Regions from separate parts of the Homo sapiens genome. Here region 1 is linked to region 2. Evidence: fine-mapped expression QTL. Tissue or cell type: whole blood. Region 2 holds a variant in brackets; the other region holds the start of a gene. All regions are shown on one strand. Distances are between the middles of the regions.

What was found. PIP is the estimated chance that this variant, and not a neighbour inherited with it, causes the effect.
Region 1: CRACR2B starts here. The variant in region 2 is fine-mapped to the expression of CRACR2B in whole blood (INTERVAL, PIP above 0.99).

What each region holds. Positions count from the first base shown.
Region 1 is chr11:825,590-830,589 of GRCh38, reverse strand. It overlaps CRACR2B (calcium release activated channel regulator 2B), which reads right to left and starts at 2,671. Exons shown (of 9, transcript NM_001286606.2): 1 at 1,818-2,671; 2 at 1,627-1,738; 3 at 1,050-1,230; 4 at 458-604; 5 at 253-340. The coding sequence starts at 1,982. RefSeq lists silencers at 1-424, 2,619-2,708, 2,949-3,568 and enhancers at 554-1,091, 1,092-1,631, 1,632-2,169, 2,710-3,248.
Region 2 is chr11:783,545-791,867 of GRCh38, reverse strand. CEND1 (cell cycle exit and neuronal differentiation 1) reads left to right here and starts at 1,778. Exons shown (of 2, transcript NM_016564.4): 1 at 1,778-1,838; 2 at 3,210-4,753. The coding sequence starts at 3,292. The coding sequence ends at 3,741. SLC25A22 (solute carrier family 25 member 22) reads left to right here. Exons shown (of 10, transcript NM_001191061.2): 10 at 1-1,393. GATD1-DT (GATD1 divergent transcript) reads right to left here. Exons shown (of 2, transcript NR_126343.1): 2 at 7,571-8,323. RefSeq lists a silencer at 1,638-1,867 and enhancers at 7,386-8,073, 8,074-8,323. The variant A/T (reference allele first, on the strand shown) is at 3,886.

The DNA.
Region 1 (5,000 bases), 40 kb before region 2:
CCGGCCGCTCGGCCATGCAAAAGAGGTACACGGAGGGCCAGGGGCTGGGAGTGGGCCCGGGCGGAGCGGGGTCGGGTGGAGAAGACCGGACGGGGGTGATACGTGAGGCCCAGTGGGATCTCCTCGGGCTGAGGGCAGCCTGGACCCGCGGAGGTGGGGCCGTCGGGGAGGGATTAATTCAGAGAAGGCGGAGCCAGGGAGGCCAGCGAGGTGGGATTGGGCCTGGCGGGAGGGGCGGGGCCCGAGGCCCACCTGACTCGGCGGGCGCCGGCTCTGCTCCCGAAGCTGCTCCGTCTCCTCGTACAGAGCGCGCACCTCCCTCTCGTGCTCGCTCTCGCGCCTTCGGGGGACCGGGCGACCCCGGATGAGAACTTGCCAGCGCTACAGCCCCCTGGCACCGCCTCTGCTGCTGCCCTGAGGCCCTCCATTGGCCCCCATACCCCACCCCGGCCCTCACCTCCGCAGCGCCTGCTCCAGGCCGTCGCGCTCCCGGGCCGCCTCCTCCAGGCAGGCCGACGCGCGTATCAGAACATCCTCGAAAGAGCCCAGCAGCTCGGGGCGCTCGCGCTGCAGCCTGGCCCAGAGCGTCCTCACAGCCCGCTGCCTGGAGGGCGGGCGGGAACTGAGGCTGGAGCTGGCAGAAGCGGGAAGCAGGCTTCCCTCCGCCAGCAGCAAACCCTTAGGAGACTTCTTCGCCCCTGGGCAGGACAGGAGCACTTGCTGCGTGCAGGGCATCCCTCCCGTGAGCGCTTTCGCCCCTGCCCGGCGTGCGTGGTCGGTGAGGTGTGTGTACCCTGGGCAGTGCCGGTATGTGGCCCCGCGCCCGGCGCTGCCCCTCCTCCCTGCAGCCCTGGCTGCTGCCTCATGAAATGCAAATTCTGCGGGAAATCATGCCGGGTCCCTCCCAGGGAATCGCAGCTGACGCTAGGCTGGGCCTGACCCGGCCTAGAGACCCTGTGCAGAACCAGCACTCGGGTGACAAGGGCAGACAGCATGCAGGCAGAGAAACAGCAGAGCGGGCAGTGGGAGCGGGGCCAGCGCCGACTCACTTGCCCAGGACCGGGGCCACCCCCAGCTGCTCCAGCACAGTGTGGAATCGCTCCTCCTCTTCCTCCTCCTCATCCAGAGAGCCCGCCGTGCCCTGCACGTCGAGCCCGCCCGACTCAAAGGTCTCCTCGGGAGTCCTGCAGGGGTTCGCTCCCTGGGCTGACGCCACCCCCACAAACATCCCTGCGGGCATGGAGCGAGCGATTACCAGGGCTGTGGGTCGCCACCGTGGCTGTGTCCCCGTTCACCCTCCCAACGAGTATCCTGCCCTCTCTCAGGGCCCAGTTTCCTGTTTTCCTTCCTTATTCTGGTCCTATTGGCCTGGAAACAAGAGGTGACAGGCCAGCTCCCAGCCCTACCGGAGCTTAGCACAGGAGAGGAGCTGGGGGCCAGGAAGGTCAGCTCCACACACTCCACCGCAGCTAGGAGCCCCCAGGCGCGAGTGCGTGCAGACAAAGCACGGGCCCTGGAGGGAGGAGGACGAGAGGCACCGGCAGCCCTCAGGGCGCCACAAGTGCCAGGCCTCCTGATCAGGCCTCCAGCTCTGGGCAGTGGGGGATAGGCAGGCCACAGGCTCACCCAGGCCCAGGCAGAACTCCCTGGCGGTGAGGAAGCCAGTGTGAGCCCGGTCCAGACTTTCAAACACAGCCTCCAGCTGCTCTGGCGTGAGGGGCAGGTCGCTCTGGAGACCCTGGTCGGGGAAGGAGAGCAGAGATGAGCCGCTGCGGTCAACCCAGGGCCGAAGCAGTCTCTTGGGGTGGGGGACTCACCTGCAGGTCGTGCTTGGTGATGAAGCCCTTAGCCTCCTTGTCACACAGCAGAAACAGCTCCTCAGCCTGCTCCAGTATTGCAGCCCGCGGCCCTGCAGAGCCCCCCTCGAGTTCCCCCTCCTCCTCCTGGGCCTCATCAGCCCCAGGCTTTCCAGGGCTGGCCATGAGAGCAGGGGGCCTCAGCCTGGCCTTCAGGTGCTGTGAAGCCAAGGGAGGGTCAGAAGAAATTCAGGAGGGGAGCGGATGGGGTGCAAGTGTGTCTGAAGGCTCAGCCGAGGGCCCTCCCTGCAGCAGGTGGGAAGGTGGGCGGAAGGCAAGGTGGGACCAGGGGGCTGGGGGTGGAAAATGCTGCAGGCTTGGGGTGTCACTGGGGTGGTTGATGTAGGCTCAGGGCCTGTGGGTACTGCCCCAGTGGGTCTGGCATCTCAGGAGGCTGGAACCCAGGAGGGGCTGCCAACTTCAGGAGAGGAGGAGCTGGAGGTGATGGCAATCTCAGGGGCCAGTGGAGAAGACCTGGTGATAAGGAAGGTGGGGTCCTGAAAGCTGAGAGGAGCAGGCTTGGGGTCAGTGAGGGAGGAGCCCCTCACACTCTGCAACTGGAGATCTGATCCCAAGTGAGGGCTCAGCCAGTCCTGACCAAGTCCTTAGCCCCTGGCCTGGGCCTGTGTGGCCCAGCCTCATGACAGCTGGCAGGCAGGGCAGACTTCTCCCTCCTGCCCACCGGCCCCTCCCTCCCCACAACTGAGCCCACAGAGTGCAGGGGCAAGGTCCCAGCCTGCAGAGCCCTTCGCCTCTGACGCCCCACTCAGGAACACTTCCAGATTCGAGACCTAACACCCTTGCCCCACAACACTGAGGCCCTTCCCCGTTTCAGAACTCCCTGGGGCCTCCCTTCCCACCTCCTTGCAGGGACGCCCCGCCCCCTAACCAGAGCCACCTGTCCTTCACACAATGTCCTGATCCCGGATTTCCCAAAGCTGCTCCCCACCAACACCCGCCTTCCCCCACCGGGGAGCTGGGATCCTCTCCCCTCACTCTCCACCCAGCGTCCTTCCATGTTCCTTAGCCCGGGCGACCTCCAAAGAGGGCAAGTCTGGGCGGGTGAGAGAAGGGGACACGAGAGGCCAGGGCCATTGCCTCCAGGCCACGTTGTTGTCTCGCCCGCCCTCCGGCTTGCCGGCTAGACCTGAGGTCCACCCCAGCCGGAAGCCGCGCGGCAGCAGGGCCCCAGGGAGGTGGGAGGATGGGCTGGTGGGGTGGGGCGGCCAGCCTCCTGTGCTCCCCGAAACTCTGGGGGACAACCCCGCCCTTACCCCTGCCGCCTTGCGCCCCGAGGGGGTAACCGGAGTTCCCGACCGAGACGCTCAGGTTTGGCGCGGGCCACGGCGGCCCGGAGGGGGTGCCGGGCGGGCGGCAGTGGAGGGGCCTCAGCGGCGGGACCAGCGGTCGCCTACCCGCGAGTTGCGCCGCCGCACCTGCCGCGCGCCCGGGCCGCTCCTCCCGGAAACACTGGGCGCGCCCCGCCCCAGCTGGGACCCGGACGGGACGTAGAGGGCACTGGGCCCCGAGCGACCCCTGCCGCTTCGCAGGCACCGAGACCCCCGCTTGGGCCGGCCCCGGGAGGAGCCACTCTGCGCCGCTGTCGCCTGTCCCCGCCTCTCTGCGCTGCCCCGGCGGCCCGATCCCTGGAGGCTCGAGCGAGCAGTGAAGCAACGATATGCCCCAGAGACCCAGGGACCCCCCGGAGCAGGGACAAGGCTGCGGGGGGCGGGCGCAGACACCAGCGCCTGGGAGGGGCCCCTCCTGTCCGGGGGGAGCCCGACTTAAGGCGCCAAAAAGTGTGTGTAGGAAAAAGCCGGGCAGGAAACAGACCAAATACTTTCAGCGGTTATCTCTAGGGGTGGGGAGCCTTTACTTTCTTCTCTATACTTTCCCGGTTTTTAAACAATAAACATGTAGGCCGGGCGCCTGTAATCCCAGCACTTTGGGGGGCTGAGACAGGGGCAGATCACCTGAGGTCAGGAGTTCGAGACCAGCCTGCCCAACATGGCGAAACCCCGTCTCTACTAAAAATACAAAAAATTAGCCAGGTGTGGTGGTGGGCGCCTGTAATCCCAGCACTTTGGGAGGCTGAGCCAGGAGAATCACTTGAACTCGGGAGGCAGAGTTTGCAGTGAGCCGAGATTGTGCCATTGCACTGGGCAACAAGAACGAAACTCCATCTCAAAACAAAACAATGAACGTGTAATGCTAGAAAATGTTTAACTTAGCAGTATTCAGTGTATATGTATGGGTGAACGAGCTGGGGACTCAGGCAGGTCCCACCTCAGTAGCCCCTCCTGGCTCTCCTTCTGGGGCCCAGCCCTGACTGGGGCTCCCCTTGGGGGAGGATTGGAAGGAGGAGCTGCTTGAGGCCCGAGTGAAACCCTCCTGTGGGGGGAGAAAATTCCACCCCAGACCGAGGAGCCCTCCCCAGCCCCAGCCCCAGCCTGGCCCCTGCACCCACCTGAAGGGCTGGAATCACTGTCCCGCCCGGCAACCCTGGGGGGTACAAGGCCTCTGCTTTTCAAGGAAGGGGCCTGGGATCCAGCGTGCGACCCAGCTGAACCACAAAAGGCTGGGCTTATAGGACAGGACCTTGAGACCAAGGGGGGTGGCCTCTGGCACAGGCACATCAGGGACCTGCCTGGCCGGCTCGCCCAGTCCCAGATCCCAGAACCAACCGTTATTGTTGGCAGGGGGCTGCCACCACAGCCACCCCACGCCTTCTGGGAGGAGCAGGTGGGGGCTGGCTCCAGCACCCTCAGGCCATGGGGCCTTTTTGGTTGCCAAGGAGGGCTGGCCTTCTCCCCTCATGGCCTCCCTGCCATGAAGAGGATGCCCTCAGGAAACCACTTCCCCAGCACAGGGCTGAGTCCCCTTCAGCTAGGACCTCACCTGCCTCCATATCCCAGCCCTGCCCTGTGTACTGGCAGGAGGCTGGGCAGGGGAACAAGAAGGTATGTGCACCAGGCCAGAGAGGCTTGTGAGGGTGGGGGGACAGAGAACTTTGGGCCAAACGCCCAAGTGGAGCAGGGGCCCAGCTTTCCCAGGTCCCCTGTGCTTGGTTTCAGGAACCTCAGCCCCCACAGCTGGCCAAGCCCCAAAACAGTCACACACCCCACTGTGTCACCGTGTGAGGGG
Region 2 (8,323 bases):
GCTGGAGCCAGGCAGCTAGCCCAGGACGGAGCAAGGGAAGACCCCTCCCCAGCCCTCCCGTCGGCAGGGGCAGCAGGGGGCAGGGTGCAGGGTCCACATAGGTGGTGCACACGCAAGCCCCCCGGGGTGCTGCCTGCACCGTTGGGATCAATGTCTCATTTATGTAGAAAATGCAGAAATCTTTACATTCCTCAAGCTAGCCCCTGCCCCAATCCTGCCCTGGCCTGAACACCCCCAGGGACAGAGCTGGTCTCTGGGCTGGGGGCCCCCGGGCCTGGGCCGGGCAGGCTGGACCATACCCCCAGTCCACCAGCTCCAGTCTCCACAGCCATCCTGGCCCACACAGGCACCCCACACAAACCTATTTATTGAATCTGCTGGACCCAAGCGGCTCTCCAGCCCTTCCGTCCTTCCCCAGCCGCTCTTGTCGCCTTGGCAGGACTTGACTCTGCCTCCCTGGCCAGCCTTGCAAGAGGACTGGGGTCTCCTGCCCTCTCTGTTGAGCCAGGAATCCCAAGTGAGGGGTTGCCCTGAGGTCTGACTCTTGGGGCAAGCCCGCCACCCACTGTGGGACTTTCTGGTGGGCTCCTCAGCTCCCACCCCAGGCTGGGGCCCAGATTGTGAGGTCTGTGTGCATGTGTGTGTGTATGTGTGTGTGCATGCGTGTGTGTGTTGTGGGGATCTGGCCTGGCCCTTGGGGATGGGGCTGCTGGGGACTGCCCCCCTTCCCGCCGTGGCCAGGCGCTCTGTGTGCTGTGTGTGCCCCAGGCTCTGTTGACCCCGTCCAGGAACTAACTTACCCAGCTTGGTCTCTCCTGAGTCCTCCACCCTGGCCTGGGATTGGCCAGGGAGCAGGGCGGGCATTGGGACCAGTGTGGAGCCTGAGGGTGCCTGCCCTGCTCTGGAGGGAGGGCCAGGAGCTGCCACACCCCCAAGTCCTCTCAGGGCCCACCCTCCTTTTTCAGCCTCTGCATAAGGCCCCTGGGTACACTGCAGAAGCCCCATCCTTCCCGCCTCCGGGCATAAGGCCCCTGACCACACTTCAGAAGCCCCATCCCCCCTGCCACCGGGCGATCCCTGCTGTGAGCCGAAGCTCTCCCTGCCCCGCCCTGGCCATGTGATCGTGTTGGTGACAGACCCTGATGTGCTGGTGCTGTGTCCCCAAAACCGGGGCCCTCCACAGAGGCCCCTTCCCAGCGACACTACCTGGGGCTCAGGCCTGGACCCCCCCAGTTCACGGTTGCTCCTGGGAGCTGCCCCTCCCGTCACATCAGAACCTTGGAAGCTGCTGCTGCTGCTTACAGAATTATATTTTTTTCTTTTGAAGAGTTTTAAGAAGTTGTAACTTTTTGTGTCTTGTCATGTCAGAGAATAAATAAATATTCTAAGTAGATGCTGCTGTCTGTCTGGGGGTCTGTTTGGGGGCGGGGGAGGGCAGTCCCCTCTTCCCATAACTGGCTCCCTTCAGACTGCAGGGCTAGGCCTGCGCACCCACCCACCGACCCCTCACCCACCGACCCGTCACCCACCGACCAAGGGGCACCCTGGCCTAGAGGGGATGCTGAGCGGGACCCGCCTCCTGCCTCTGGCAGTCCCAGATGGGACTTGGACCCCGCAGTTGCTCTCTCGGACCCTAAGTTTCTACCCCTGGATCTAAGGCGGAGCTGGGTTTGCGGATCCCACGGTTCCCGGCGGGGCGGGGCCCGGTCGCCCCTCCCCCTCCCCGCCCTCCTGCGCCGGGAGCAGTGCATTGTGGGAAACTCCCGAGCTCTCCTCCGCGTTCGCAGCCGCCGTCATCCCGCGGAGGAGCGCGCAGCCCCGGGGAGGCCGGAGGACGCGTAAGGCGGGGGGCTCCCGGCGGGCGGGGCGGGCGGGGCGGGCGCGGCGTCCTGCGGGGCGAGGAGGCGGCTCCGGGCCTTGAAGGTCACTGGGTTTGCGCGCGGGCCCCCCAGTTCTCCAGGGCTCAGTTGATCCCGGGAGAGGGAGGCGGCGGCCGGGATGTAAGTGCCACAAATAGCGAGGTTGGGGGGGCAGACCACCTGCTCTTTGCAAACTTGATGCCCAGCAGCTGAGCCCCCCGAGAACTGCAGGGGTGAAGGGACGGCTGGGCTTCCCTGGGAGGTGGCAGCAGCTGGGCCTCTTCTGGAGACGCCCTCATCATGCTGTGACCTTCGGGTGACCTTCAGTGTGGTCAATGCACCTGGCGGGGGGTGGGGAACGTGCCTCCCTTTCTCTGCAGGTCTGGAGGGCATTTCTCATCCTTCCCTGGGAGAGGCAGACAGGCGGCCTCTGGGGCTTTGGGGCAAGACCCACTCAGGTTCAGGGCGGCTGGGCCCCCAGGGCCCTTCCCACCTCTGCCTCGGTCATTGAGAATCTGGGCACCGCCTTTCCCACAGCCCAGAACCCTGTCCTCCGCCCTGACCCGCGGGCCAAGTGCAGCATGTGCCCACCCTGTTTAACGCCAGGAACCCTCTGCCCACAGAGACAGCACAGCCTTGGGCTGGGCGAGGACTCCCTGCTCCAGGGCTGGAGGCAGGCACGGCCCATGCTGAGGAGGGGGCCCCAGAGGCTGGGGAGGGGCAGACGGCCCTTGGAAGCACAGCCCCACGCTGACTTCCTGGAGAGACACCCCAGTTTTCTCAAGTCTGGGTTCTTGTGGGCCCACCCACCCTGATGGCTGCCTGAGATCCCAGCTCCTGCCCCTCCCCGCCCTCCTCCCCCTGGGACCCTGGCCAGGTCACAGCCTCCGTGCTTTAGTGTCCATCTCTGCAAAGCAGGAATGCTCTCCTGAGGAGGGGATGCAGTCAGCTCTCCCACTGGGGCTCCGATCACCTCCTTGGAGGGGAGAATGCTCTTCCTTCGAGTTCTCTGGGCCTGATCCTTACTTCCCCACCAAGAGCCTCCTGCCCCCGGCTGGTGGGAGGATGTGGCATTTGCATGGGCCATTTTATGGAGCACAGTGGGGTCCCCTACCTCCTCCCACCTGTGCGTGGCCCTTGCCTCTGCGGCTGGAGGGGCCCCTTGAGGAGTGGTCATGGACAGATGGAGTCCAGGCCGTGAAAGAGAAGTGTCAGAGGCCCACGGGAGGCCCCTGAGCTGGGGCTCCAGAGAGTCCAGAGAACTGGGCAGGGGCTGCCTGGGGACCAGGTGGTCGGGGCAGCACAGGGGGGACTGGACCCGCGCGCAGCCTCCCTTGTGTCTCCCTCCAGGCCCATAGAATGCCCAGGGGCGACAAACTGTCCTGAGCCCCTCTGGTGCAGCCACCTGCCTGTCCCATACGCCCCGCCCACCATGGAGTCCAGAGGGAAGTCAGCCAGCAGCCCCAAGCCCGACACCAAGGTGCCCCAGGTCACCACCGAGGCCAAGGTACCCCCGGCAGCCGATGGGAAAGCCCCCTTGACCAAGCCCTCGAAGAAGGAGGCCCCGGCCGAGAAGCAGCAGCCGCCAGCAGCCCCCACCACGGCACCTGCCAAGAAGACCTCGGCCAAGGCCGACCCTGCCCTTCTCAACAACCACAGCAACCTGAAGCCAGCCCCCACGGTCCCCAGCAGTCCCGATGCAACCCCGGAGCCCAAGGGTCCTGGGGACGGGGCGGAGGAAGATGAGGCTGCCAGTGGGGGGCCTGGGGGCCGAGGTCCCTGGTCCTGTGAGAACTTCAACCCCCTGCTGGTGGCTGGGGGTGTGGCCGTGGCAGCCATAGCCCTGATTCTCGGTGTGGCCTTCCTGGTCCGGAAAAAATAATACCTGGGGGCCAGGCGGGGGGCACGGAGCCACTTCCTGTACAGACCCGAGGAAGCCAGTGCATGCAGAGTTCACCCTTACCTATTCGTACACACGCACATTCATTACACACCTACATACGCCCCCAACACACGCGCACGGTGA[A/T]GAGGACGCCCGAGCCCACCCCTGCTGACCCAGGACTTCCCCAACCTCCAGGGCAGAAAGAGCCCAGGCTCCGGGGTCCACAGCACAGGATGTGGGGCGAGGGCACAGCTGGGGAACGGCAAGAAAGGAATGGACCCTGTGTGTGGCCCCCCCCACCCCTGGCGGCTGGGTGATCCTGGGCCCCCAGGGCTGGTCTGAGTGCAGGTGGGGGTGCCGGGATGGGTTGGGCCTGGGCCCGGCCCTCGTGGGGACATTAAAGGGCGCGGTGGCTCCACTCGCCCCATTTCTGCTCTTTGCGTACCCCCCGGGGGTCTGCCTGGGCGAATGCAGTGGGACGGACCTGGGGTGGGCACTCACCTCAGCAGAGCCTCAATGCCACCTCCCCACACCACCCAAGCCTAGCTGGGTGGGAAGACGGAGCCCTGAAGCCTGCGTGTGGAGGGGGTGCTGCCCAAGGGTCGCCTTCCCCAGCTTGTGCTCCAGGGGAGCCCCGACGCCGGCGGGGAGGCAGGGATGTCGAGGGCCCCTCACAGCTGTGCCCGCCCTGCCCCGCTAGACTGCCCCTCCAGCTTGCACCCAGCACCACCTGAGTCTAACCAGCGTATAATGCAATAACAGGTAGAGTAGAACTGCTTTTGGCGGCGACCGTCACACACTGTCCTCAGCCCACTGCACCTGGGGAAGCCCCTCGTGCAGCCCCTCCTTAGCACATCCAGTCCCAGCGTGGCCCTTGGCGCGCAGCAGCAGGCGAACTCCCAGAAGGTGGTGGTGGGCACTGTGAGAACGTGGCCTGCCCTCACTGGCCAGTGGCCACAGGAACCCCGGGCCTGAGTGGAGGCTGAGTCTGAAATAAACTCTGTCGTCTGAAGGCTGCTCTTGCATCCTCATCTGCATGTGGCTGGGAGACGCAGGGTCGCATGTGTCACGCCCACACCCCAGGCTTTCCAGGGAGGGATGCTGCATCCAGGACCCTCTGACGGGACCCCCTGTCACTCCTATGCCCTTATTCCAGGGGCCTCGGCCCGGATCGCCACCCAGGCCCTGCTCCATCCTCCTCCCTGGCCTTCCTGTGGGTCCTGACCCAAGATGGACACCCAGGGGCTACAGGACCAGGAAGCAGTGAGGACATGGGGTGCGGGGAGGGCAAGCCCTGCTTCTCAGGCTGAGCTCTCCAGCCAGGCAGGGGCCCTTCCGCAGCCCCCACTGCAGCGAGCCCCACATCCTGAGTGCAGAAGAGGCTCCCCTCAACACCTCTCATCCATGGACCCCAGCCCACTCTGACCAGGTGTCCAACCGGCGGGCCTGCTGGTGGGCCTGGCCACGGGTGGGGCTGCAGCATGCGGGCCAACAAGCAGCAAGGCCTGCGGTGCCTGGGAAGGGCTCCTTTGAGCTCTGTCTTCCTGGCTCTGGGTCTCACCCGACAGGTGGCTGAGGCCAGCAGACAAGAGCTCCCTGACCACCTCCTCCCCCAAGCCTTCTTCCAGCTGGTGTGGGGGGACAGCCATGTCTTCCTCCTGCCCTTCTGGCACCTGGCACACTCCCTCCCCAGAGCAGCAGTCCTCGTTCATGCACCCACACCCAGGCCCAGACAGATACGGAGGTCCCACGGGGTAGAACCAGCTAAAACCGACACTGTTGCTCCCACCCAGGCCGCCCTGCGACAGCCTCCCTCGACTCCCACTCATGCTGCTGCCTCCTAGAAGTCAAGGAGGCAGCCTATCCCTTGAGCCCGTTGATCTGAGCCCAGCGTACAGAGAAGGCTCTGTGCAGACACTGCTCACACCTCCAGCTCCCAGCTCACCTGCCCCACAGGTGCCAGGATACCTCTCTGACTGGCCAGCAGGGCCCCTCACCATCCTCAGCCTGCCTTCCAGTCGCCCATTCTCTCCATTCTGCGGCTCGTGCTTTAAAAGCAACCAGCCAACCCTTTCTGATATAGTAGGGGACTTGAAAGGGGCTAAGAAGACTGAAGATGGTCTGCCACCTTTAACCACAAGGCTTGGCGCTTTGGTGCTGATATTCCACCCACGATGCTGCCTCATTTTACTTAGCGATTCTCTATTAAACGATGCTTAGATTTTCCAAAACTTTTTCAACTTCAGACAAAGCAGGAATGAAAATCCTTGTAGGCTGGGCACGGTGGCTCACACCTGTAATCCCAGCACTTTGGAAGGCCGAGGTGATAGATGGCTTGAGCTCAGGAGTTTGAGACCAGCCTGGCCAACACAGTGAGACCTCTGTCTGTACAATAAAAATATAGCTAGGTGCAGTGGCTCATGCCTGTAATCCCAGCACTTTGGAAGGCCAAGGCGGGCGAATCACGAGGTCAGGAGTTCGAGACCAGCCTGACCAACATGGTGAAACCCTGTCTCTACTAAAAATACAAAAATTAGCTGGGCCTGGTGGCAGGCGCCTGTAATCCCAGCTACTCAGGAAGCTGAGGGACGAGAATCGCTTGAACCTGGGAGGCGGAGGTTGCAGTGAGCTGAGATCATGCCACTGCACTCTAGCCTGGGTGACAGACCGAGACTCCATCTCAATAAATAAATAAATAAAAATTAGCCAGGCATGGTGGTGTGCGCCTGTGGTCCCAGCTACTCAGGAGGCTGAGGCAGGAGGATTCCCTGAGCCAAGGAGGTTGAGGCTGCAGTGAGCTATGACTGTGCCACTGCCCTCCAGCCTGGGCAACACAGCCAGACCCTGTCTCAAACAACAACAAAAACACCAAGAAAATCTCCGTAAAACCTATTCTGGGTTTGTGGTGCAGCATACATCTTTTCTGGGTTTATTGTATAAACACAAAATCTACTGTCTTAACCATTTTGAAGTGCACAGTTCAGCAGCATCATGCGTATCCATTACCACCGTCCACCTCCAGAATGCGTCATCCCTCCAGAGACTCTGTCCCCATTACACATGGACTCCCCGTCCCCTCCCCTTAACCCCGGGCACCCACCACCTATCTTCTGCCTCAATGGCTCTCCCAAATCTAGCATTGCAGATAAATGGTATCGTGTAACATCTGTCCTTTCAATTGGCCTATTTCACTCAGGGTCCACCCATGCTGTAGTCTATTCAACTTCCCTTCCTTTTTATTTTATTTTTTGAGACGGAGTCTCGCTCTGTCGCCCAGGCTGGAGTGCCGTGGCGCAATCTTGGCTCACTGCAACCTCTGCCTCCTGGGTTCAAGGGATTCTCCTGTCTCAGCCTCCCAAAGTGCTGGGATTACAGGCGCACGCCACCACGTCCGGCTAGTTTTGTATTTTTTAGTAGAGATGGGGTTTCACCATGTTGGCCAGGTTGACTCGAACTCCTGACCTCTGGTGATCCACTCACCTTGGCCTCCCAAAGCGTTGGGATTACAGGCATGAGCCACTGTGCCCAGCCCAACCTTCCCTTCCTTTTTATGGCTGATAAAAGGATGGAAAAAAGGAAAGGAGAAAAAAAAAAAAAAAGAAAGAAAGCTCCTGGCTATTTGGGTCTCACCATTTGATTTTTCCTCTTTGTGCCATTTGTGCAATTTTTTTTTTCTTTTTTGACAGAGTCTCACTCTGTTGCCCAGGCTGGAGTGCAGTGACACGATCTTGGCTCACTGCAACCTCTGTCTCCCAGGTTCAAGCGATTCTCCTGCCTCAGCCTCCCGAGTAGCTGGGACCACAGGAACTCGCCACCACAGCCGGTTAATTTTTTTTTTTTTTTTGTATTTTTAGTAGAGATGGGGTTTCACCATGTTGGCCAGCCTAGTCTCGAACTCCTGTCCTCAAGCGATGCACCTGCCTCGGCCTCCCAAACTGCTGGGATTACAGGCGTGAGCCACTGCTCTCGGCCTGTGCGTTTTTTCTTTGCGGGAATGCTCCTCACTTGTTGCATTTCTTGCGGTGTTTTGCATCCCGAGCCCTTTGCCGCTTGCAGCATCCAATTATCTCCTCCAGTCAGCAGCCACTTGCCTTCCAGTGTTTCTGGAGCACAGACGTTCCAAAAACCCGAGTTTATCAAATTGGAACCATTCTCCCATTACCGAGTAAGCTTTTAGATTCGTGGGCAGAAGGATATCCTGCCACGTTCGAGTCTCATGTTCCTGGCATTTACTCACGCGTAGGCGTCTCATCCATCTGGCACTTAGGTTGTGTGTGGAGCGAGCCAGGGGTCTCACGTTTCTTGCCCATGAGATGGGACGGCCCCAGCGCCAGGGAGTGGATGGTCCTCTGCCAGCCCGCAAGGCGGCGCCAGCTCCTGCTCCCGCTTCCCAGCACAGCCTGTTCTGAGCCAGGCCCCACCGCCTGCGACTGTGGCTCTTTGTCATGTACTCACCTCCTTATTCCTCTCTTTAATCTCCCGCAGGTGCTCAGCTACTGGCTTCCCTCCCGGGACGAGGTCGGAGTCTCCGCCTGGGATTCTGAGGCGTGGCTTTTGCTTCACAGTGCCCCTAAACCTCAGT